Homo sapiens: one gene and its partners. The protein of the gene in region 1 purifies or fractionates together with the protein of each later gene. This does not show direct contact. Each region holds a gene or a part of one and is shown in the gene's direction. Other genes may lie near its edges. The genes, in order: PINK1, HDLBP, MCM6, IGF2BP2, HNRNPR, MYO1B and GARS1.

Region 1 (3,500 bases):
GCCTTGGCTGGGGAGTATGGAGCAGTCACTTACAGGTAAGTGCCCTCTGCCTGCCAGACTGACTGGGACTTCTTTGAGAGCAACTTCATCCATCACTTATGTCCTCAGCACCTGGTACAGTGTCTGATATGACAGTAGATAATAAAGGCTTAATGTTGGTGATGGATTTTCAGTTAGTGGATAATTTCACTTGGGAAAGATTGCAGGTAATCTGACCCCAAATGATGATGCACTTGCGTAATTCACATTGGAGCAGGGGAGAGGAGGCCCCCCAAAAATGCCCAGTTCACAGTGTTGCATGATTGACTGGGGTTCTCAGATTCCTCCTAAGAAATGCACGGGTAGAGCGCCACCTATCGGAATAAACTGAACTCTGTCCCCACCAGAGGGAACACTCATTTCACTAATAGTTATGTGCACTGATGGTGCCAAGAGATTTTAAAAAAAACAAAAAGTGGTCTGTTGGCCCAGAGGTCTCAGTGTGGCAGCAGAGAGCCCAGGGTGTAAGTGCTAGAATCGAGTATGCTTGGGCTGAGGGAGCCCAGGGGAGGCGTGTGCTGCAGAGGAGGGGCTGCTCAGAAAGCCTTCTCAAAGGGACAGTTTGTGCCACCTTGTGAAGGATGAATTGGCATTACTTGGGCAGAGGAGTAGGGAAGTGGCATTCCCAGCAGAGGGAAGAGCAAGTGAACAGCAGCTACGCTTTCAGCTCAGAAAAGCCCATGTCCACCACCAGCCTCACCACAGGTGGTGAGGACTGACGCGCAGGCTATGACAGAGGAGATACTTGTGCCCACCTCAATATTTACAGCCTGGCTCATGCCTGTAATCCCAGCACTTTGGGAGGCTGAGGTAGGCAGATCACTTGAGCCCAGGAGTTCAAGAGCAGCCTGGGCAACATGGTGAAACCCCGCCTTTACAAAAAATAAATTTTAGCCGGGCATGGGGGCAAATGCCTGTGATCCCAGCTACTCAGGAGGCTGAGGCGGGAGGATCATTTGAGTCCAGGGAGGTTGAGGCTGCAGTGAGCCAAGATCATGCCACTGCACTCCAGCCTGGGCGACCCTGGAGTGAGACCCTGTCTCTCATTTGTAGACCCACCAAGAAGAGGTGGGTCTGCTGCATTTTTGGTGATTTACTGGAGGGCTGGTTTATAGATCTTCATTCTGTCAGAAGCAGGGAGGCAAAAGTATGAAATTAAGGGAGTGGTTGTGGAAAACCCCTTCCATGGTTTGGAGGTTTCCAATGTGACTGGGAGTCCCTGCAGGCCGGTGGAGGTAGCTGCTCAAGTGGCTGCTGCTTCTCCTGAGGCCTTTTTGGAGAAAGTGGACACCTGAATGTCAGCTGCTTTGGGGCTAACATGATCCTTGATGCCTCCTTTTGTGGCATGAGTGGCAGCCGGCCGACGTGGTGCTGTCCTGCTGCCGGAGCACCATGATGTCTGCTGCTGAGACCTCCCATCTGACATAGTCCCTGTCCCTCTTCAGGGACTTTGTTCCTTTAGCAGTTCTCACTGTCTGGCCTCAAATAACACGTCTTTTTCTGTTGGTTCCTTTTTGCTCCAGCTGTACTGTAAACACTCTTTGTTTACTGCATACCCTCAGTAAATACCTGTTGAATGACCGGATAGATGTGGCAGCAGGTACATTACCTCAACTTCTGGTACACCTTGGGAGAAGCTTTCCCAAGAACACCCTGGGTTCATTTCCTCCTAGCCTCTGCTCTCCTGGGGCCCAGAGATTGAAGGCGCTTAACCTGCTCATCTCACCACGTCTCCCGCCTTATCTCTCACCCTTCTCATCAGCACCCTACACTCCACCACGCTGGCTTCATAGCTCCTTCCCCGAATGTGCCAGGCTTCTCTGTGACCATCTCTTGAGCGTACAGCTGGCTATACCTGGGCTGCCCTCCTCCCACATTTCAGGTCTCAGTTCAGACACCCGCAACCCCACCATGTATCTCCCCAGTACAGCCATACTCCTCTGCCCCTGAGCTCCCATGACACCTGCTGGGGCCCTGACAGCCTGGGGCTGTGATCATGACTTGCCCAGGGGCCCGAGGGTGGAAACGATGCTCTGGCTCCTTTGATTGCATAGAACAGGGGCCACTCAGGTTGACTCAAGAGCAGGAGCAGCGCGTGGGCACACGTGGACTGCAGCCACACAGCCTGGGGACCATGCAGTGCTGGGAGAGGCCGGTGCCCTGCTCTCTCCCCAGCACCGTCTAGGCTCTGCCCCATTCGCTTCCCTCCACCATTGTTATGCAGCAAAGGGGGCTCTAGCCTGATGTGCTAGAAGCAGTCACACTGGATTTTTGAGAAAAGCCAAGCTTTCTATTGTGAGTCGACTCATATGGAGACAGGAGTTGAATTCAACCCTGTCTCCCTGTGCTAGCTTTAAGGCGGTAATTTTATTAGAGGAGGTTTAAGGGGTGGATTCTAAGATTAGCAGGTGATTGATGGAAGGAAAGGAGAAGTCTGGACAGTCCTTGGACATGCACAGTTATCTGTTCATGCCAACTCATGGGTCCCCTGTGCAGATTTGGGAGGAGTGAGTATGAAACGTGCAGTGGCAATTCAGGCTTTGACATCAGCAAACTTGTTCTGTGCAAGCTGCAATTGGCCTTATTGGTTCCAACCAATTTCAGCCAGTTCTTTTATCTCATAAGCAGAGGGAGTTTCAGCCTTTCAGAAAGTGGTTTCTGCAAACTCAAATTTTCTTTTATTTTTCTGAGACAGGGTCTTACTCTGTTGCCCAGGCTGGAGAGCAGTGGCGTGATCTTGGCTCACTGCAGCCTCAACCTCCCTGGGCTCAAGTGATCCTCCCACCTCAGCCTCCCAAGTAGCTGGGTCTGCAGGCACATGCCACCATGCCCAGCTAATTTTTGTAGTTTTTGTAGAGACAGAGTTTCTCCATGTTGCCCGGGCTGGCCTCGAACTCCTGGGCTCAAGCAATTGCCTGCCTCAGCCTCCCAAATTGCTGGGATTACAGGAGTGAGCCACGGGAATTTCCATCAGTTACTGATTCTTGAACTTGTAGGAACGTGGTTCCACTGTCCACATGCTGTTCTTTCCTCGCATCTCCTGTTCCTGCTTCCCTTTGGCCTGCTCACCTCTGGCTCCTCATGGCCCCAGTGAAGTATCGTGGCTTCCTCTCCACTGCAGACTGGCAGATTTCTTCACTCACACTCCCAAAAAGAGAATCTACTTCCCTCCCTTCCCTTCGTCCAACCATCTGGGTCTCGAGTGTCACTGTAGGTTCACTGCCGTTGGGGCAGGTGACTCCTTGGGCCAGTCAGCTTTGGCTGAAGGGCAGGGCTGGCACACAGCTGGCAGAGCCACCCCATCCAAAATCCAGCCACTGTGCCTCAGCAGGGCTGTGGTTTGGGGGTCGGGGGGCGCTCCCCACAGGATAAGGAGCAGCCAGGGCAGGCAGATGACACTACCACTACTAGCTGCATCTGGATCTATTCACTTATTCAACAAAGGTTTATTACACCCATAT
Region 2 (3,500 bases), on another chromosome or scaffold:
TTAGAAGCAGTCTTTAGAGAGTGTCCCCTCCAGGCCACTCCCCTGCCAGGGCCTTGGATTCCCTTTCCCTAATAATCAAGTCTGATGCCTCCTCATGGAGTCAGAGGCTACCCCAGGAGGTCCCACTCCTTTGGCTGAATTGGCCACCCTCCAGGGATGGCACCTGGCCTTCTGGGACACATTTCAGAGGAGGCCCACCCCCTTAGACCTGTCCTGCTACCTCCCTCCTCCCTGCGCCTGGAGCCCTGGACTCGGGAGAAGGGGAGCATCTGTGCCAAGTGGCTGTAGAGGACAGGGAGGAAGGTGGTGTGAAGAGTGCTGTAAAACTTGCCCTAAGGAATTTAATCTTTGCTCTTTTCTTTTTTCTTTGTGTACCTCCCTCCAGGAAGCTCAGGTGACATTAGAATGTGCTATACCCCAGAAATTCCATCGATCTGTCATGGGCCCCAAAGGTTCCAGAATCCAGCAGATTACTCGGGATTTCAGTGTTCAAATTAAATTCCCAGACAGAGAGGAGAACGCAGGTGGGTCCCCCATTAGCCCTGCTCTGCTTGTTAATAGTGGCGCCTCCCATGTGAGAGGCGGGGCTGTCGCACATACTGGTGAGGCTCTTTCCTGTCTCTGCTGGAAAACCATCTATGTATTCTGGGGGCTTCCAGAGGTTCAGGGTCACTCCCTGGCCTTTAAAAGATGGACCACGTCAGTTACTGACAGAGTGACCAGGTGACCTTCATAGGTCCTAGAGACACACAAGGTAGCCAGTCCCAAGGCGATGAGGAGCGTGCAGCCTCATCCTCGGGTGTCCCGAGTTCAGTCCCAGTGATTCTCATGACATCGTTTGGATCGCATGAGCCCCGTCGTAGAGCTTCCTCCTCCACATCTCCCATCACTGTGGGGTGTCCCCTGTGAGGCAGGCAGCTGCAGCCTCTGGCTGGCCAGAGGGCACCATCCAAGTGGCCGGCAGTTCTAGGAGAGCATTCAGTTCCCCGTACCATGCTTGCCCCCAGCTCTGCTCATGCACCTGGTGGTGGGGAGGCGACCTGTGGGATGCGGGTCGGTTGCCTCTCTCTCACTTGCTCTGCATTTGTGAAACAAAAGGTATGCCCTCCACTCTGTGTTATCAGATGCCCGCCCTCCACTCTGTGTTATCAGTCTTGGTTGAGCTGTTTGGGCGGCAGGTGGCCCTGCAGCCTGCTGAGTGCACATAGTGTCATCTCTCTGGGCATCCAGGAAGCATGTCACACACAGCCATTCAAGCCCCTTTGTTTTCCTGAGAATACAGGGTGTTTTGAGTAGGAAACTAATAAACTCATACTGCACTCTGTCTATGTTTTACACTTCAGTGGTTATTTAAAACTTTGATTTTGATAGAATTTCACAGAATAGTATAAAGACACATCCTGTGGCACCAGTTTCTTTTCTCAACTTCTCCCCTTTTACACACGTTTTTTTTCTGAATGTCATTTTTAGACATGTCCCTTTATTCATGGTGGGTATTTTCTTAGAACAAGGACATTCTCTTACATAATTCTAGCACATTTATCGGAATCGGATTTAACATTATATAACAGTAGTATCTAATATGTTGTCGGTATTCAAATTTGCCAGTTTTTCTCCTTCAGAAACACCTACTTCCCCATCCTAGGATCACCCTTGATTTCAGGCAGGCGTCTGTCTGGTCTCCTGCTCATTTATTTACATCACACACCTCCTGGGTTCTGTCTTAGTGATAATTATTGTTGTGTCTGTTTTGTGACACTTATTGTTGTGGTGTCTATTTTGGTACACACGCGGTGTCCCAGTGTGGCCTGTAGGAGCCCCTCCAGCTGTCTTCTGTGTCCTGTTCACACGCCTCTTCACTTCTGGGGCTCTCGCTTTCTGGCATAAGGAGCTGGCACAGGTTTACCTTGGCCTTGCCCTTTCTGTCTCCCCTAGACCTCTCACCCCCCTTCCCACTGCCTCTCCTGGGTGGGGCTGCGTGCTGGCCGCCTTCCCTGATGAGCCCTGCCTCACAGTCAAGCCTCACTTGTGCAGTGGGTCTGCCCTGTGTTCCTCCCATGAACTAACTCATCTGATCTCACTGAAGCCTCTGCTGTAGTTAGTTGCTGTTAGCTTCATCTTCAAGGTGAAGAAGGGAGACACAGAGCTCACGGCCTCCCGGCAAAGCCTTCATTGCCGCCCCCCCCCCCCCCCCCAAGGTCTGGGAGCCCTCTTTGAGGCTGCTGTGGGGACGTCCTATCTGCTCTCCCTGACCAGACCAAGACCTCCTGAAGGACAGGAGTGGTTTTCCCTCCCTTTTACCACCCAGCACCCAGCAGGTGCCTCACAGACATATGCATTCTGAACAAGGTGTGGGGTCTCTTCCAGCAGCTGTCAGCTGTCCCTTTTCCCCTTTCTCTCTAGTTCACAGTACAGAGCCAGTTGTCCAGGAGAATGGGGACGAAGCTGGGGAGGGGAGAGAGGCTAAAGATTGTGACCCCGGCTCTCCAAGGAGGTGTGACATCATCATCATCTCTGGCCGGAAAGAAAAGTGTGAGGCTGCCAAGGAAGCTCTGGAGGTATGTGTCCATGTGCCCCCCTCCACCCCCCGCCAAGGCCCAGTCAGCAGGCACCTGGGGAGACGCGTGGCCTGGATGGGATGGACGGTTGCCCAAGCGGCAGTGGCAGTGGAGGTAGCCCTCTTGCTCCTACCGTGTGCGCACGGGCTGTGCTTCTCGGCTGGACACAGAGTTTGGGGAGGCCACTTCCCTTCACCAAGGCTCGGGGTTCTATAGCCCCTTTCTGGGACAGCTGCATGGGATCCGGCCTCTCAGGCCCACGGTGGGTGCGGGGGCTGTGGAAGGGTCTCAGCTGCAGGGGGATGAATGTGACCTCCAGTTGCAACGTCTCCCCCCGCGTGAGTGGGGTTATCAGGCCTAGCTCACCTTGTGTGCAGTCAGTGTCGAGTGCCACCTGCGTACTGGATGCTGCTCTCAGTGCTGCGGTGCCACAGCACACAAAAATAGTTCTCACGTTGCCGTGGAGAGACAAGCAGTCAACGCAGATATATCCTGTGGCAAGTGATGGTAAATGCTGTGGCAAGAAAGCAGGTTCTGGAGGTGAAGGGCGGTGGGGGAGACAGGGCAGGGAAGGTGAGCAGCGGTCTGAGAGTCCCTTGTGGCACCTCGTGGGCATTAGCCAAAGCCGTCCTGATCCCAAGGGACAGGGCAGGGAAGGTGAGTAGTGGTCCGAGAGTCCCTTGTGGCACCTCATGGGCATCGGTCAAAGCCGTCATGACCCCGAGGATGTGCCAGGAGTCAGGGCCTCTCCTCCTACGTGGGCCTGAAGGGGCTGCTGTAATTCAGGAGGGTAGGCTTGGGATGAAGGGTCTGGAATTTCTGTCTGCCAGCATTAGCCTAATGCAAATCTTTTCCTATTCTTTTCTATTGAGTTAAAGGTCCTGGTGGCATTGTCGGGTGGGGCACATTGCTGTTGTCATAGGGCTGTTTGCCTTGTGTTTC
Region 3 (3,500 bases), on another chromosome or scaffold:
ATAGTGGTTTGCATTCAGATTTTGTAGAAGGTTGACTTTTGTAGGAGTTATACCCACTTATCCAGAAAGTTTAGTGTTGGAGAAATGTATTTTCCTATGGAGATGGGATTAGATGTAAAGGGAGTGAAGCAAATTTTTAGGATTATCACATTTTAGGGCGCCTTTTAGGGAAATTTGGGAGAAAATTGATCAAGGGAGAAAATATGAAATTCTAGAAATTCCTGAATCTCTGGAAATTTTTGTTGGTTTAAATGCATAATTTTCAAACACCCCTTTGGCAGTTATTTTAAGAATAAATTTACTGGATAAAATTGAAGTGATATTTTGAAAAGTTAAACTACTGAAATTATAAAATTACCAAATTACTTCACATAAAATGGGTTTGTAAAGGAAGTGTTTCTGAACTTTGAGTACAAAATTTTTTCTCATGATAGGATTATTATGTAACACATGCTTTTTTTTTTAGAAATTGCGGGTAAGCAAAAAAGTATTTGCATATAAAACAAAAACAGGATCATTCTGTTTTTGTTTTTTTTTTTTTCTGAGACAGAGTCTTGCTCTGTCACCCAGGCCAGAGTGCAGTGGCACGATCTTGGCTCACTGCACCCTCCACCTCCCGGGTTCAAACAATTCTCCTGCCTCGGCTCCCCGAGTAGCTGGGATTACAGGCGCCCGCCACCACGACTGGCTAGTTTTTGTATTTTTAGTAGAGGTGGGGTTTCGCCATGTTGGCCAGGATGGTCTTGATCTCTTGACCTCATGATCCGCCCACCTTGGTCTCCCAAAGTGCTGGGATTACAGGTGTGAGTCACTGCGCCCAGCCCGTTCTGTTTTATAATTTTAATTTTCATTTTTTTGGCATCCTTTAGTTCATTTATATATTTTGTTCTGGATACATATACGTCATATAATTTAGGATTGGGCACGTTGACTAAATTATTCTTATAGGAGAGTCCAAAGAATACCTTGTCTCTTGAATTTTTTTTTTAAACATAAATTATCTTTGAATACCCTCTCACTAAAATGGAAAGATTCTTAGTTAAGAGATGAATGTTTACTAATGGGACATTTGTCTTTAAACAGGATTCGAGAGCTCACCTCATCCAGAATTGGTTTGCTCACTCGCATCAGTGGGCAGGTGGTGCGGACTCACCCAGTTCACCCAGAGCTTGTGAGCGGAACTTTTCTGTGCTTGGACTGTCAGACAGTGATCAGGGATGTAGAACAGCAGTTCAAATACACACAGCCAAACATCTGCCGAAATCCAGTTTGTGCCAACAGGAGGAGATTCTTACTGGATACAAATAAATCAAGATTTGTTGATTTTCAAAAGGTATTTATTTAACATCTGTTTAGATCAGAGTCCATCTATGATAATAATTCACTTCTAGGCCCTTGCAATAGCTTATTTAGATAATGTTCAACTCAATTTTTATGTAAGTTAAGCATCATCAAAATGACTACAAAGTTAAGCCCAAAACTGTTCATGTAAATTATAATTGTTAGTATATACATTTGTTTTAACTTTCAGTAACTTGGAAGTTCCTTAAGACTGACAAGATGTATTTGTCAAAGAATAAATGGTAACTAGGTGGTGGTGGTTGTCATTATGAACTGGAGTTAAGAAAACTTAAAGAAATAGCAACTTGTTAGTGTAAGATTTCCATTTGCTGCATAGAAAGGAAAGCATGAATAGGACAGGCTAGCTTGGAAGCAATGAGGATTATCATGATTGAAGTAAAGGAGCCAAATTGGAGATCATCTGAGAGATGATTTGATGTGAGACCTGGAGGTACTTGGATCCCTAAATCTTAGGCTGAGGAGTTTGAGCCTATCTTAATAAGCAGTGGGAATATAGTGGGAAGGTAGTTTGTGTGTGTGGGTGTGTGTTTGTTTTGTTTTGTTTTTTGTTTTTTTTTGAGACAGTCTCTCTCTGTCACCCAGGCTGGAGTGCAGTGGCGCGATCTCGGCTCACTGCAAGCTCCGCCTCCTGGGTTCACGCCATTCTCCTGCCTCAGCCTCCCGAGTAGCTGGGACTACAGGTGCCCACCACCACACCCGGCTAATTTTTTGTATTTTTAGTAGAGACAGGGTTTCATCGTGTTAAACCAGGATGGTCTCGATCTCCTGACTTCGTGATCCGCCTGCCTCTGCCTCCCAAAGTGCTGGGATACAGGCGTGAGCCACTGCACCCAGCCTGTGTGTTTTTTTTTAAAAGCAAACTGAATAAGTCCGTGATGGGTTTAACAGAGGGTAATAGGCAATTTCAGTTACCTGGGCAAGAGGTGATGGATGGCAGTAGTAAGAATGAAGGGGACCCTCAGATTTCAGCAGGACTTAATTTTATGGGACATACAAAATGGAAAGAAAAGCTGAAGCAGCTCAAGTATGGAATAATTATTATCAGATGAATTTAATATTATTTATATTGCTCTGATAATCATTCTCCTTATTTGGCTTTCTTACATTAACCTGGTAGCTTATAAGATGCACATATTTTACCAACAGCTTTGGGTAGGAGATGTCTTATCTTATAAAGTATGAATCTAGATTGGGTCTTAGTTTGGGGGGGGGAACACAACTGTATAAAGGACACTCTTGACAAGACATTTGAAGATGGACTAGATAATAGAAGATATGTAATTTTATGAAATTAAATATTGTTTAATTATCTTGGTTGTGATAATGATATTGTAACAGGATTGTCTTTATTCTTAGAGATGAATGCTAAAATATTTAGGTATGAAGTTTCTTGATGTTCACAACTGTGTTCAAATACATAGTAAAAAAACATGTATCTGTAAATAATGTTAGCAGTTGTGTTGAAGTGGAGGGTATAAAAGGTGTATTTGAAATTTTCTGTAAAATTATCTTAAAGCTTAGGAGAAGATGGAGCATGGAACAGATATTTGGAGTCATTTTGAACAAAGAAAAAAATTATTTTTTAATGAGTAAAAGTGAAGTTTTTTTTTTCTCTGCTGCTTGAATCATCATGGAGTTTTTAAATAGATGTAATCTCTTGCCAAATTGAACTATTTGACTAAAAGGAGTTTTAGAGTAGATAATTTTTAGGATAAATGTTGGTACATGTGAAAAGTCTGCTAATGGGTCAGATAGTTTAGAATACGTCCGTATTTGTGGTATTTAATTTAGATTATATGGCATCTGAAAGGTATTGCTTCTCATTCTTGGTTGGTTGTTTGTCTGTATTACAGGTTCGTATTCAAGAGACCCAAGCTGAGCTTCCTCGAGGGAGTATCCCCCGCAGTTTAGAAGTAATTTTAAGGGCTGAAGCTGTGGAATCAGCTCAAGCTGGTGACAAGTGTGACTTTACAGGGACACTGATTGTTGTGCCTGACGTCTCCAAGCTTAGCACACCAGGTCAGTAATCTGTGGCTCAAATTTAACAAATTCTCAGTTACCTAAACTGCACAGTATCTAGCTTCCCACATCTTCATTGTCTTCTTTTTGGCTACCAATCAGAAGCTGAGGAACGAAGT
Region 4 (3,500 bases), on another chromosome or scaffold:
GCCACCTTTGACATATTGGTAGAGCTCCAGGGTGTTCCTGCCATCTTTGACATGTCAGTGGAGCTCCAGGACATTCACACCGGGATATTTGTGGATTGTGTAGAGACTTGAAAAATGTTGAGCCTTGGCATCAAAACCAAGATGGGAGCTGTGTCTTGACATGATCGGGAATAGAGGGCACCATACCTGTGACACTGTGTCTCCTAGACTCTGCTTTGCCAAACACTTGGGACCACTTTTACCTAGAGCTTCCTCCATGCACTGTGAAGAGGCAGCACAAGCCTATACCAAAACATCAATTTTGTGTGTGTAACATTAGGAGGGAATCCACCTCAGTGAGAGCAGCAGCCGAGAGAATTGTCTGAGAGTGGTTACTCAATAGCACCTGGTTTGGGTTCTTTTCTCCAATCCCCATCCTCTTTCCAGTGCCCATTCATTACTTCAGGGATGGTTAATTTTGAGCTTAGCTGTTAATGGACATGAGATCAAGTCTCTTAAAAAACAATGAGGCCAGGCATGGTGGCTCATGCCTGTAATCCCAGCATTTTGGGCAAGGCCGGAGGATTGCTTGAGCCCAGGAGTTTGAGACCAACCTGGACAACATAGGGAGACCCAGTCTCTACAAAAAAACAATTTAAAAATTAGCTGGGAATGGTGGCTTGCACCTGTAGTTCCAGCTACTTGGGAGGCTGAGGCAGGAGGATCACTTGAGCCCAGGATGGTAAGGCTGCAGTAAGCTGTGATTGCACCACTACCATCCAGCCTGGGCAACAGAGCAAGACCCTGCCTCTCAAAACAACAACAGCCGGATGTGGTGGCACATGCTTATAATCCCAGCTACTTGGGAGGGTGAGGATTACTTGAAGCCAGGAGTTTGAGACCAGCCTGGGCAAAATAATGAGACCCCCATCTTTAAAAGAACAACAAAAACAAGTTCCTTTTTTGTAGGAGGTCCTTAAAGTGCCTGTCAGGTCATTATAACTAGAATTATGGTCACATTTGGTCTTGCTTTATGGGTGTGGCATAACCTTGGCTATATATCCCAGGATTATAGTGTTCTTTTTCAACATACAAAGATATTTAACCCATTTTCATACTGCTAGTTTTCAAAATGTTAATTTTGCATTGAAAAAGATAATGGTTCAGGCCAGGCGTGGTGGCTCATGCCTGTAATCCCAGCCCTTTGGGAGGCCGAGGTGGGCAGATCACCTGAGGCTGGGAGATCGAGACCAGCCTGACCAACATGGAGAAACCCCATCTCTACTAAAAATACAAAATTAGCCAGGCGTGGTGGCGCATGCCTGTAATCCCAGCTACTCGGGAGGCTGAGGCAAGAGAATCACTTGAACTTGGGAGGCAGAGGTTGCAGTGAGCTGAGATCGCGCCATTGCACTCCAGCCTGGTCAATAAGGGCGAAACTCTGTCTCGAAAAAAATAAAAAAAAAGAAAAAGGTAATAGTTCATTTAGTGTTAACTTTACCTTGTACACATTTGTAAGTGGAGATACACCAACAACTCAACTCCACAGCCCTTATCTAGCTGCTGCTTGGGTGGACCTCTCTACATGATATTACTCTATTGCTTTTATTAAATTCAAAAGGTGCTGCTTTGTAATAAATTTACAAGTCCTAGACATTAACCTAGTAAAATTGGGTTAATGCTACTAAAAATATGTGAAAAGGATAGTGTATTTCGTGTGTCATTTTAAGAATATAATAGTGGTATATCATTTATCCCCTATCAAATTGATAAATATCTTTAAATAACAGCGCTCTGTGCATTTGAAGATTCAAGGACACAAATGCTCTCTCCTAAACTGCTATGGGATCATAAATGTTGAAACCATTCCAGGGGCCCACTGGGCAATAGTTAACAATTCTACTAGGAATTTGTCCTGTGTGCAAAGTTGTAGTTGCAAAGATGCCAATGGTGACAGTGTGTGTAACTGTAAAAGGTTGGATACAACAGATATCTAACTATAAAGGATCAGTTGCAAAAACTATGGTAAATCAATAGAATGTTAAACAGTCATTAAAAATTATACTGATACTGCAGTTGAGTCATGTGTAAATTATACTGAAAGGTACTTAGTGACATTGAAAAATGTTTTAGAATATTAACTGTTTTTTTAAAGGTTAGAACATAGTATGTACAATATTAACCCATTTTTATAAGCAATAATATGTTTATATTTAAGAAAGACAGTAAAGATAGTGGATTAGGATTTTATTTGCACTTACATATTTCTGAATTTTCAATAATATGTATGATGATTAAAATGAGAAAAAAATGAGTCATAATTTTATACTGATATTTATAAGAGTTTTTGATAAGGGGGAAATGGCCTTGAGTGGTGGAGAAACCAGGCTGTAATGTTGGATATGAAGCCTGACCAGGCTGATGCGTTGTGATTACTTGTTTAACTGTTAACCGTAAGCCCTGAGGGAGCAGAGATGGTGTCTGTCTTGCTCACCACTGTATGTTCAGTGCCTGGCATGGCACCATATAGGCACCTATTAAATGGGAGTGAATGAACCAGTCTTGCGGGAGGGTCTTTCTTTTTTTTTTTTTTTTTGAGACGGAGTCTCGCTCTGTCGCCCAGGCTGGAGTGCAGTGGCAGGATCTCGGCTCACTGCAAGCTCCGCCTCCCGGGTTCACGCCATTCTCCTGCCTCAGCCTCCCAAGTAGCTGGGACTACAGGCGCCCGCCACTACGCCCGGCTAATTTTTTGTATTTTTAGTAGAGACGGGGTTTCACCGTTTTAGCCGGGATGGTCTCGATCTCCTGACCTCGTGATCCACCCGCCTCGGCCTCCCAAAGTGCTGGGATTACAGGCGTGAGCCACCGCGCCCGGCCGGGAGGGTCTTTCTTGATGTTGGTTTCTGACGAAGCTCCCCTGTCCTGCTGCATTTCAGAGCCATGGAGAAGCTAAGCGGGCATCAGTTTGAGAACTACTCCTTCAAGATTTCCTACATCCCGGATGAAGAGGTGAGCTCCCCTTCGCCCCCTCAGCGAGCCCAGCGTGGGGACCACTCTTCCCGGGAGCAAGGCCACGCCCCTGGGGGCACTTCTCAGGCCAGACAGATTGATTTCCCGCTGCGGATCCTGGTCCCCACCCAGTTTGTTGGTGCCATCATCGGAAAGGAGGGCTTGACCATAAAGAACATCACTAAGCAGACCCAGTCCCGGTACGTGCCTGTGGGGCTTCCTTTGCTTCCTTCTGAGGGGTCCCCTGCGTGCTGGTGGGTCTCAGCCACTCTTAGGTCACAATTGCTTACATCAGCAGTGGGGGGCTGTGCTGTAAGAGACAGTGGCTTCTTTCAACAGGACTACTAACAGACTAACATCAAGCTGGGGGCTGTGACAAGCTTTCATGCTGAGAGGCTAAAAGTTCATAAAGAGGGTACTGATAACCTCACAGCCAGGACTGTTCCTGTAAGCGAACTAATGCTTATGGATGCATTGATTTCTACAAAAGCAGAGGTTTGGAGCTCTGCGGG
Region 5 (3,500 bases), 2.7 Mb from region 1:
TGATTTTAATTCCTATTGTTTCTTCTCCTAATACAACTATGACTTTGGGTAAACTACTGAACATGAATGTCATCTATTTTATTGAGCCTGGATCAATCTCTAAGATCCACCACAACTTTGAATCTACCTGTAGTAACTAAGTATAGCCTGTATTACTTTTTCTGTAAAAATATTTTAAAATAGTATTATAGATGTATTATAATAGAGGAATAAAATATTATAAAAGAGGAATAAAATCCCATGAAAACCAAAAGTATAGCTTGTAATTTGCTTACCAGCCACTTCTCACATAACCTTTAGTAACTGCTCAGATGGAAGTTCATCCTAATCTTTTTTTAGGGTTAGAAAACTTCAAGATTTCATTCTGGTAACTCCTTTTTCCTAGATCTAAAACAGGTTTCAGAATGAAAAGGAGGTCTCTATAAACTTAGGATTAAATATTATGGAGCCCTTTATTGTTTCTTTTTTTTAAAAGATGGGGTCTCATGTTGCCCAGGCTGGAGTGCAGTAGCTGCCCACATGTGCAGTCATAGCACACTGCAGCCTTGAACTCCTGGGCTTAAGCGTCCCTCCTGCTTCAGCCTCCCGGGTGCTTGCAACCCCATCCAGCTCCTTTATTGTTTCCTAATTGAAAAGAAAAGTTTATCCATTTGAGTAAAGCTTCTGTTATTCACACTATCAATTTACAATTCACTGAAGATTTTTTTTGCCAAGTTGGGTCAGTTTTACAATGTACCATAACCTAAAAGCCTAAATATATGTCTCTTAAAGGGACCCTTTTTCCTGTTGAACATTTTAAACACAATTTCAGTAAGTAATTTTCACATAGTATGTTATCGTTTCATCATAGAAAAGTCCATGTTGAATTTTTTTTAAAAAGCAACTAAACCAGTGGGAGTCTGTGTAACATAGAGGCTGGACCTTAGTATGACAAATTGAGAATAATAAAGGGGATGGAGCGTTTGTGGAAAATGTTAGTTTTTTTCCTCCTTAAATTAGTATCTTCTTATTAGATAGCCCTTTATCTGAAGCAACAATTTGTTCAATATGTTAGTTTTTTATTTGGATAGGTACTATGTTTTCTTAGTTCAAAAGTTATATAGAAAAGTATAGACAAAGAAATTTCCTTTCTACCCCTATCCCTGTGTCTACCAAATCCCCTTTGTCTCCTATAAGGCATCCAGTTTTAATAGTTGCTGGTTTCCTTTTAGTATTTCCTTCGGCAAATATGGATATACTTCCTTAATTCTTAGATGAGTGGTAGTAATGTTGGTAGCCTACCATATCCACTGATCTACCTTTTGTTTATTCACCATCCTGTTTCATCAGCTCTGAGGAAATACATCATTACTATATGTACTACTAAATAGTTAAAAAACACTGCCAACTAAACTATGGCACAGTACTTGCTTATCACATTGACTGTAAGTTGTCCTATCCTACAACTCATAGAGCTCCTCTTCATTTTTTGGGTTTTTGTTTTTTTTTTTTTTTTTTTTTTTTTTGAGACGGAGCCTTGCTCTGTCACCCAGGCTGGAGTGCAGTGGTGTAATCTTGGCTCACTGCAGCCTCTGCCTCCCGGGTTCAAGTGATTCTCCTGCCTCAGCTTCCCGAGTAGCTGGGGTTATAGGTGCCTCCTACCACGCCCGGCTAATTTTTGTATTTTTAGTAGAGACAGGGTTTCACCATGCTGGCCAGGCTGGTCTTGAACTCCCAACCTCAGGTGATCTGCCCACCTCGGCCTCCCAAAGTGCTGGGATTACAGGCGTGAGCCACCGCGCCCAGCCCTCTTCTTCATTTTTTATGACTACATAGTAGTCTATTCTGTGGAGGTACTATAGTGTATTTAACCAGCTGGATATTGTTTCTAATCTTTTGCTCTTACAGTGCTGGAAGGAATAAGCTTATGTTAGTTGATACAAGTGGAGATATATCTGTAGGATAGATTCTTAGGGGTAGAATTGTGGGCCAAAGGGTAGATATATCTGTAATTGTTAAGATACTGCCATATTCCTTTCTGTAGGAGATACACTATTTTACATTCCTACCAGCAAAATACAAGAGAATTATTTTCCTCATTCTTGACAAAATAGTGTATAATCAAACTTTTGAATTTTGCCAGCCTGATAACAAATGTCTCAGTGCCATTAATGATTAATGATTTGCTTCTCTTACTATGAATGGTTTGAACTTTAAATATATTTTAAGAGCCATATGTGTTTCTGTGTATGAACCATGTATTCAGGAATTTTGCCTATTTTTCTATTCAGTTGTTGAGCTTTTTGTTATTTTCTGGTGCTCTGATATAAAAGAGAGATTAGCTGTTTGTGATACATGTTGCAAATTTTTCATCCATATTTATTGTCTTTGCTTATAGTATTTTTTTGCCATATAGAAGTCATTTATTTTTAGTAGTTGAGTATAACATTCTTATGGCTCCTAGATTTTAAGTCATAAGGTCATCCCCACTCCAGTGTTATATAAAGGAATCATTCTTGTTCTAAAATTTCACAGTCCTCCCTCCACCCTTTTATTATTTAAATTTTCAATCTATTTGGAGTTTATCCTTGTGTATAGTGTAAGGCATGGACCAGCTTTTCTCCTTTTTTTCTAATTTAACACTACCTGATTTAATGATTTAAGCATTATAGTTTGTTTATATTTGGTAGGGCCAGCCTCTAAATTTCACTCTTTTTTTTCCTGGTTATTCTTGCTTATTTATTTTTTCATATGAACTTTTGAAAGTTACTCAGTTTTAGAGGAAAGAAACAGAAAAACTTGTTTTGAAAGGGACTTTTTGTTGATTAACTTGGTAATAATAATTATGTGTTGGTTCCTTGAAGGTTCTACTCAGTGTTAGGTGCTTTAATGACAACATAGGAGAAGGCAGGAACCAATAATTTTTGTAAATTGGTGACTGATATCAGTGTCATTTTCCTAGCAATTTCTCTTACTACCTGTAACAACACTTTTAGCACTTAATGTTTTAGAGGAGAAAAGCTATGCTATGAAGACAGGAAGAAACACTTTTCAGGTAAAATTAAGTAGCCAATGACGGTTTTGTTTATTTGTTGCTTACTAGGTAAAAGTTTTGTTTGTGAGAAACTTGGCTACTACGGTGACAGAAGAAATATTGGAAAAGTCATTTTCTGAATTTGGAAAACTCGAAAGAGTAAAGAAGTTGAAAGATTATGCATTTGTTCATTTTGAAGACAGAGGAGCAGCTGTTAAGGTAGGAATTTTGAAATTTTGGTTCTTGATATTTGAATTTTGTTTTTGAAACTTGCCAAACACAAAGTAACTTTAAAAACTGAAACAATATTGGTTGTCAGCTTTTGCTGAACTCTTTCTATTTAATCTCTGTAAAGTGGTAATAGTATGTAACAGATAAGACTCCATATTTCAAAGCCAGGTTATTACTGAGTTTGTGATCTTAGGCAAGTTATTTTTAATCTCTGTATTGTTTTGTAAGATTCGATAGCATGATGCCTTGGAAGTAT
Region 6 (3,500 bases), on another chromosome or scaffold:
GAGCACAGGGCTGCATTTTCTTTCCATTCCAGGTTCCAGCTGCTCTCAAGTAGTTCAGTTTTTTGTTCATTTGTTTCTCTCTTTGTCTAAAGGAATACTGTAGGACAGAGAAATCATAAAATTTGGACACCTTCAGGCAACATAGTTAAATCCTGCAAATTGAAGAGTTTACTTTATCAGATGTACAGAACAGATAATCAGATAATACATGTGAACACACACACTTTGATGGGTGGGAAAAAAGGCTTTTTCCTGTCCCTAAAGATAGTAACACATTCTCTATCTAAATTACAGGGAAGCTGGAAATCTGTTTTATACTGCCTTTTATTTTAGCTCTCTTATTTTGTATAAGAGGACATGGCATGTAATTTAGATGTTGCCCAGCATGGAACACGTGGGGCACTTGTATAGATGTTGACCTTACTTCGATAACCTAGTCAGTTGATATGTGGAATGTTAAATATATGCAGTTATCAGATGTAATAAAATCATGAGATGGAAGGGCATGTATTTAGTAAATGAATGCTCAGTACACACATCCTCCAGGAAACTTTCCTGCCCAGCACGGTGGGCTTGTTTTTTTGTTAGAATCATCTATGTATAGAGTGACATTATTGCTGATTAGCTTGATAAGTGGTACCATACAACATAAGGAACTAGATTCTGAGTTCTGTTCTCTAACAGCAAATTTGGCGAGGTTCATGAACCTCTTAATGGCTTGTCTCCTTTCTTGAGTCTAACCCAGAAACTGTTTTCAGAAATAATGACAGGGAGCTCCCATTGCTGGGGATCTGCACCACCTCTGCCCTCCCCTGGCTTTGCAATCTCACCCATCCCTCCATTGGATTGGAGGTGGGAGATGAGGGCTGTTTATTCCTGAAGGGAGCCTTTCCATGGAAAGGGTCAGCAGCAATGCTCACACTTCTTCATGCAATTATTTCAGTAGCACTTGACCACACCTGTAACTGAATTTCTAGGAATGCTCATCTAAAAAACCTGGCCCTGCTCCTCTGGCCACTGTCTCCTCTCATTGCAGCTTCAGGGATGGAGTGAAAGGGGATATCTCAGGTCCCTCATCCCTATTGTAAAATGGTAGTGGGGGGATTTGGAGCAGTGGTTTTCAAACTGTCATAGCATATTTGTGGTCATGAAATCAATTTAGTGGATTACTACCAGCGTTTTTCAATAAAATGCAATAGAATAGAAAATAGCAGAGTGTACAATATATAGAAAGGATTGAGTATTGTTTTGTGACGCTTTTGTGTCAGTTTTCTCTGTATGTGTGTGGAAATGTGCTTAGTGGATTGTGATGCACAATATTTTTACTGTGAGTCTCTCTAGAAGAGTGACAGCCTCAGGACTAGAGGATTTCCAAGGATTGACATAGTGGGAGGAAATAGTACTTGCAAGGCCCGTGCCCACTAGGCCCTGGTGTGTTTTGAAGAAGCATTCCAGGTTCTGCAATACAAATAATACTCTGACGTTTTCCAAGACAAACTTTTTAAAACCCACAAGGGAAAAATGTTTTTGGCCTTTTTTAGTGAATGTTTTGTACTTTCTCCCTTATTCTTGTTGCTGATAAATTGTCTTAGCATATTTAAGAATGAGTAATAATTTATTTATATAAATGATGTTTTGTTTCTTTCTTCTCATATCTCACAGTGTAAAAAATACAGGGACCAATTCACAGACCAGCAGAAACTTATTTATGAAGAGAAACTAGAAGCCAGTGAACTCTTCAAAGACAAGAAGGCTTTATACCCATCTAGGTATTATGGCTTTGCTTTACCCATAAAATTCAGGATTATAAAAGTTTCTCAAGTATATTTGTACGCCGTTTTGCCTGGTGTTTGATTTCAGTCTTAGATGAGTGATTTTTAGTTCTGTGAATCATTTTATAATCAGCTTGATGTAAACACATTTATTTGAGCTATGGCTTCTATAGTGCAGTTTAATGAAATGAGGTTACGATTGTTGGTTTCACTCCATTAGCATTAGCTCAAACACTTTACTAAATAATTAGAAGTCATTTAACATAAAAATTATATAGGCTGTTAAGATACGTTTGCATTGTAAATTCCTGTTCCTTTTCCGTAGTTTTCAAAGACTAGCCAAATTTCTGTTGGCAATATACTTTAATCACCATTCCAGTCTTCCTGCCATAGCAAGCAAGGTCAGAAACTTATTTGTAAGGTAAATGAAAGAGCGAGCCAGGACAGTACTTTTTGAGTGTTGCTTGAGCACTGGTCTGTGGTGCCCTTTGGTCTGCTAACTCAACGGATATGACTTCTGTGGCCTGTACAGCACGTTCAGTTCCTTTATTTTAGACACCGTGGACTCAGAAAAAGAAGGAACACCAATCCCAAGTTCAGCAAGTGAAGTCCTTGGTAAAGACTGTTTATCCCAATAGTCTTACATCTCCTGCATTCATCACTTCCTCCCAGCAATCTAATCCCATTTTCATCTGGTGTTTATAAAAAAGTAGATTGTACAATTTCAAGCCAAATCTGTAACAACTTTAAGCTTCTTCCAATGAATGGCCAAAGAAAGAATGTATTATATGCTGAGTATATTCACATTTATTACGTAAATTATGTTTATATTCTCTGTGACTTTATACACATTTAAAATATCTTCCTTTTAAAGGATTAAAGGAATATACATTGCCAGACTCACTGGGTTTAAATATTTTAAATTGTACAACTTCATTGGTTAGCTGATGTGGCTACTTGAGGTGATACATACTCCCTTAAGTCAAACACAGTGTCTAAATCCAAAGTTGTCCAAAGTGCCTGTTATATAAAGCATATTCAAACAGGAGAATTTGTCTGTATGCTTGCTTCAGCAACTAATTTTATTCAGCTTTTTTTTTATACATTTTTAAATTAGGGAATAACCTTCTTAATGAACATTTCCTGTGGATGACTCTTCAGAAACTACAGGCTGGAAAATACATCTTTGAGGAAACAATTTAAAAGCCTGTTAGCATTTTTATAATTTAAAACACAGTTGAATAGGAACCAAAAAAAGTTAACTTCAAGCCAAGTCCTTTTTGGGTAGTCTTATCAGTTTTCAGGGATAGTGGCACACTCACCCCACAGCAGTGAGAGAGGTGGAATAATTTAGCCTCCCACCACCCTGCAAAGTGGCAGCTCTTATGGGAGTTGGCCTTTTATATCCTGAGAGCTGTGAAACGCTGACCACCTACGTGGATTTTTCTTCCCTTATCCTCCACCCACAACATAAGCATTTAAATTTGTATTTGCAAATTGCCAGAACTTTGTAGCTCAAAATGAAGCTTATAGATTCCTTGAAGCAGCAGTTTTTCCTTGGTGCCTTTGATGAACCTGTCCTGAAAGAGTCCCCCGACAAGTCTTTAGGGAAATTGATATCTTAGTGATAAGTGTACAGTTAACCTTTTACAAAAATTAGTTTGTTTGGGAAAAAAAAAATTGCCCTGATTCTGAATGTTTGCTTTGGTTACTTCTGTCCATTTAGAG
Region 7 (3,500 bases), on another chromosome or scaffold:
TTTTTCATCCTATATAGGTAATATTTTGTTTGTTTACTCAGATGACCTATTCCACCATATTACTATAAATATGGAATTAGTATAAGTTGTTGGAAGTTAATAAAATAATTCAGAAATATTAGCAAGGAAAAAATTCCAACTGTAAAGAGAAAGGCAAAGGAAGATGAGCCAGCAGTGACTGAGAAGAATGGTCAGAGAAGTGGGAGGAAAACTGAATAATGTTTTTATTTTTTTTTGTAAGCGAGAGGAGAGAGATTTAAGAAGGTGGTCAATTTATTGGTTCTTCTGTGTTCTCAGTACAAATCTTGCTCTTTCCTACTTTTTAATCAATGCTTTTGTCTCCTCCTTTTTCACCCCTCTATACCCAAAGGAAAAAATTCACCATGTGAGCAGTTATTTGTTAACTTGCCCGTGTGTTCTTCTAGATTATTAAATGAAGAGGGCAGAGACCTTGATTCATAATGATCACTCACATAATAAACATTTGAATTGCATCATTCTTTTTTTTTTTTTTTTTTTTTTTCATTTTGAGACGGAGTCTCACTTTGTCACCCAGGCTGGAGTGTAGTAGCATGATCTTAGCTCAGTGCAACCTCCGCCTTCCGGGTTCAAGTGATTCTCCTGCCTCAGCCTCCCAAGTGGCTGGGATTACAGGTGCCCACCACCACGGCCGGCTAATTTTTGTATTTTCAGTAGCGATGGTGTATCACCATGTTGGCCAGGATGGTCTGAAACTCCTGATCTCAGATGGTGAGGAGGGCCTTTCAAAGTGCTGGTATTACAGGCGTGAGCCACCACGCTTGGCCTGAATTGCATCATTCTTACATAGACTTTTTAAAAGGCACGCTTAAAAACACATTCCTAACATTTCTTAACTTCTGAAACCAATCCTGAATATAAATTCTCTTTCTTGGCTAGGGAGATCTTGTGCGAAAACTCAAAGAAGATAAAGCACCCCAAGTAGACGTAGACAAAGCAGTGGCTGAGCTCAAAGCCCGCAAGAGGGTTCTGGAAGCAAAGGTGAGTCCTGGGATGCTAAAATAGGAACATAAGTAGGTATAGGATTGTTCATCTTTAATTTCTTTGGATGGGAGAGACCTAGAAAAGTTTCTGAACAAGTATCATTTGGTTTATCTGTTTATCCATAATGCCGCCTTCTCCTTTCCCTCTACCTGGTAGACTCCTCATCCTTTCAAAATGCAACTCAAAATGTCAACTTTTTAATAAAGCCTTCCTGACCCTGCAAATGCTGGACTCAATACGCTATATGAATTTCCATGGAAAGGATTGTGCTCTTCTTTACGACTTCTCTTATGCCTGAAAATAATGATTTTTGTTTGTTTGTTTGTTTTAAGGAAAAGGTCTGTTTATTTGATACCTGCTCCCAGACCTTTCAAACAATAGATCTCCCATCACCAAACTTAAGTTGTTTTGGGGTTTTAAAGTAACCATTTTGCTATAGCAATCCACTGACAATTCAAATATTGCTTTATATTGCTTATCAGTATCTACATCAAAGTAAACTTAGTCTTGTTTTTTTTTTGAGATGGAGTCTCGCCCTGTTGCCCAGGCTGGAGTGCAATGGTGCGATCTCAGCTCACTGCAACCTCTGCCTCCCGGGTTCAAGTGATTCTCCTGCCTCAGCCTCCCAAGTAGCTGGGATTACAGGTGCCCACCACCAAGCCCAGCTAATTTTTGTATTTTTAGTAGAGACAGTGTTTTGCCATGTTGGCCAGGCTGGGCTTGAACTCCTGACCTCAGGTGATCCACCCACTTCGGCCTCCCAAAGTACTGGGATTACAGGTGTGAGCCACCGCACCTGGTCAAGCTTAGTCTTGTAATCTTGGAAATGATCATATATTTTCCTAAATGATTAAGTAAAGATATCTTTTATATTACTCAAAGGGAAAAAAAGACCTATGGCTTCTATTGTTTTTAACCTATCAAAATCTTGTCTGTTTGATAAATTTTATATTTAATTCTGGTGAGGAATAAACTAAATTCAGATATATAAGTTCAGATTCCCACCCACCCCTCCACTCACTCACTTTTTATTTAATCTCTAACAGGAGCTGGCGTTACAGCCCAAAGATGATATTGTAGACCGAGCAAAAATGGAAGATACCCTGAAGAGGAGGTTTTTCTATGATCAAGCTTTTGCTATTTATGGAGGTAAGGGATTAATGACAAAAAGAACTATTGTGTTGTTAGTGGCTCTAATATTATACTTAAATCAAGAACATGGCTTGCCTGTTGGTATCCACTTGTATCAGGCCACAAAGCAGAGGATGGATGTTTTGCTTTTGTTTGCTTGGAGTCACCATTTGGTGTGATACCTGTTATTTTTCTCCACTGCATTTATTCCTGGACAGCACTTTTTTTGATTAGGATGTAGGGAATTGTTGGAGGCCCATGTATGTATTTGATGTGTCTGTGTACTCATGTACTCTTTTTAAAATGCAATGGAGACTGAAGAGTAACAGAGGGCCATTGTAGTACTGGCTAACTATACTATGCCCCTTCACACAGGGGCAGTGATAAAACAGTCCTTAGATTATTCTTTATGGTCATCTGCCAGGAGAAAACATTCTTCCCAGGGATGTAGATAAATCACTGTGAATGCCATATGAAGGTATATAGGCAAATACAATTCACTGATGAAATGTAAAACTATATTTTTCATAGTCAACGGATTATTACAACAACATTAGACATATAGTACTTTGCCACTGAAAGTTGACTTGAGTTTGGCTAAGTGGATCTGTAAATGTTTACCCTTTTGAGGTTAAATAGTGCCTCAAATACCCAGGAAAAAATTAGAGAATTGGATGCTAAAATTATAGATCATTGTTATCAGATGTGGTGAGAAATTATTTTGTAATTTTTACGGCAGAAAACTGTAATCTGCTTTTTCATTCTGTTCTCTAAGGGGGAACTTTTGTTGTAGATTTTGGGCTAGTCCTACTTGAAATTACAAATATAGAATTAGTAAATGGCGTAAGAGCTTTTTTATTTTACTTCCATCAGCTAGCTGAAAGTAAGGTTCTTCAGTATTGAGGGATTTGCATTGTTGACTTGAATACACTTTTAGGGAGTATAGGTATCAGTTTCTCATGTCTCCTTGCCTTCATTTGTTCAGAGTAACAAGGTAAAGTATGTGTTTTCCTCTCATATTCTATAGGTGTTAGTGGTCTGTATGACTTTGGGCCAGTTGGCTGTGCTTTGAAGAACAATATTATTCAGACCTGGAGGCAGCACTTTATCCAAGAGGAACAGATCCTGGAGATCGATTGCACCATGCTCACCCCTGAGCCAGTTTTAAAGTGAGATCTTACTTTGGAGTGGGGGTATCCTACTTTAAATAAAATAACTTATTAAATTATTTAATATACTTATCTAAATAACTTCCTGATTATAAAGAACTACTCATTTCATGTAGAAAATCTGAAAAATATGGAAAAGCAAAGAAATGTATACCTTCTGCTCACAGATAGCTATGT

The links.
Region 2: the proteins of PINK1 (region 1) and HDLBP purify together in Homo sapiens (affinity purification with mass spectrometry; 2 studies listed by BioGRID and IntAct, with this or other methods). This does not show direct contact.
Region 3: the proteins of PINK1 (region 1) and MCM6 purify together in Homo sapiens (affinity purification with mass spectrometry, with the first as the bait; one large-scale study listed by BioGRID). This does not show direct contact.
Region 4: the proteins of PINK1 (region 1) and IGF2BP2 purify together in Homo sapiens (affinity purification with mass spectrometry, with the first as the bait; one large-scale study listed by BioGRID). This does not show direct contact.
Region 5: the proteins of PINK1 (region 1) and HNRNPR purify together in Homo sapiens (affinity purification with mass spectrometry, with the first as the bait; one large-scale study listed by BioGRID). This does not show direct contact.
Region 6: the proteins of PINK1 (region 1) and MYO1B purify together in Homo sapiens (affinity purification with mass spectrometry, with the first as the bait; one large-scale study listed by BioGRID). This does not show direct contact.
Region 7: the proteins of PINK1 (region 1) and GARS1 purify together in Homo sapiens (affinity purification with mass spectrometry, with the first as the bait; one large-scale study listed by BioGRID). This does not show direct contact.

What each region holds. Positions count from the first base shown.
Region 1 is NC_000001.11:20,639,958-20,643,457, forward strand, and holds part of PINK1 (serine/threonine-protein kinase PINK1, mitochondrial precursor), read left to right. Parts: coding exon 1-35; intron 36-2,699; exon of another isoform or gene 2,700-3,161; intron 3,162-3,500. UniProt on the Homo sapiens protein: Serine/threonine-protein kinase which acts as a sensor of mitochondrial damage and protects against mitochondrial dysfunction during cellular stress.
Region 2 is NC_000002.12:241,235,673-241,239,172, reverse strand, and holds part of HDLBP (vigilin), read left to right. Parts: intron 1-385; coding exon 386-524; intron 525-2,403; coding exon 2,404-2,558; intron 2,559-3,500. UniProt on the Homo sapiens protein: Appears to play a role in cell sterol metabolism. It may function to protect cells from over-accumulation of cholesterol.
Region 3 is NC_000002.12:135,866,444-135,869,943, reverse strand, and holds part of MCM6 (DNA replication licensing factor MCM6), read left to right. Parts: intron 1-1,083; coding exon 1,084-1,333; intron 1,334-3,215; coding exon 3,216-3,381; intron 3,382-3,500. UniProt on the Homo sapiens protein: Acts as a component of the MCM2-7 complex (MCM complex) which is the replicative helicase essential for 'once per cell cycle' DNA replication initiation and elongation in eukaryotic cells.
Region 4 is NC_000003.12:185,689,043-185,692,542, reverse strand, and holds part of IGF2BP2 (insulin-like growth factor 2 mRNA-binding protein 2), read left to right. Parts: intron 1-2,915; coding exon 2,916-3,188; intron 3,189-3,322; exon of another isoform or gene 3,323-3,435; intron 3,436-3,500.
Region 5 is NC_000001.11:23,313,285-23,316,784, reverse strand, and holds part of HNRNPR (heterogeneous nuclear ribonucleoprotein R), read left to right. Parts: intron 1-3,082; coding exon 3,083-3,232; intron 3,233-3,500. UniProt on the Homo sapiens protein: Component of ribonucleosomes, which are complexes of at least 20 other different heterogeneous nuclear ribonucleoproteins (hnRNP). hnRNP play an important role in processing of precursor mRNA in the nucleus.
Region 6 is NC_000002.12:191,409,404-191,412,903, forward strand, and holds part of MYO1B (unconventional myosin-Ib), read left to right. Parts: intron 1-1,662; coding exon 1,663-1,769; intron 1,770-3,500. UniProt on the Homo sapiens protein: Motor protein that may participate in process critical to neuronal development and function such as cell migration, neurite outgrowth and vesicular transport.
Region 7 is NC_000007.14:30,597,878-30,601,377, forward strand, and holds part of GARS1 (glycine--tRNA ligase isoform 1 precursor), read left to right. Parts: intron 1-918; coding exon 919-1,020; intron 1,021-2,069; coding exon 2,070-2,172; intron 2,173-3,181; coding exon 3,182-3,323; intron 3,324-3,500. UniProt on the Homo sapiens protein: Catalyzes the ATP-dependent ligation of glycine to the 3'-end of its cognate tRNA, via the formation of an aminoacyl-adenylate intermediate (Gly-AMP).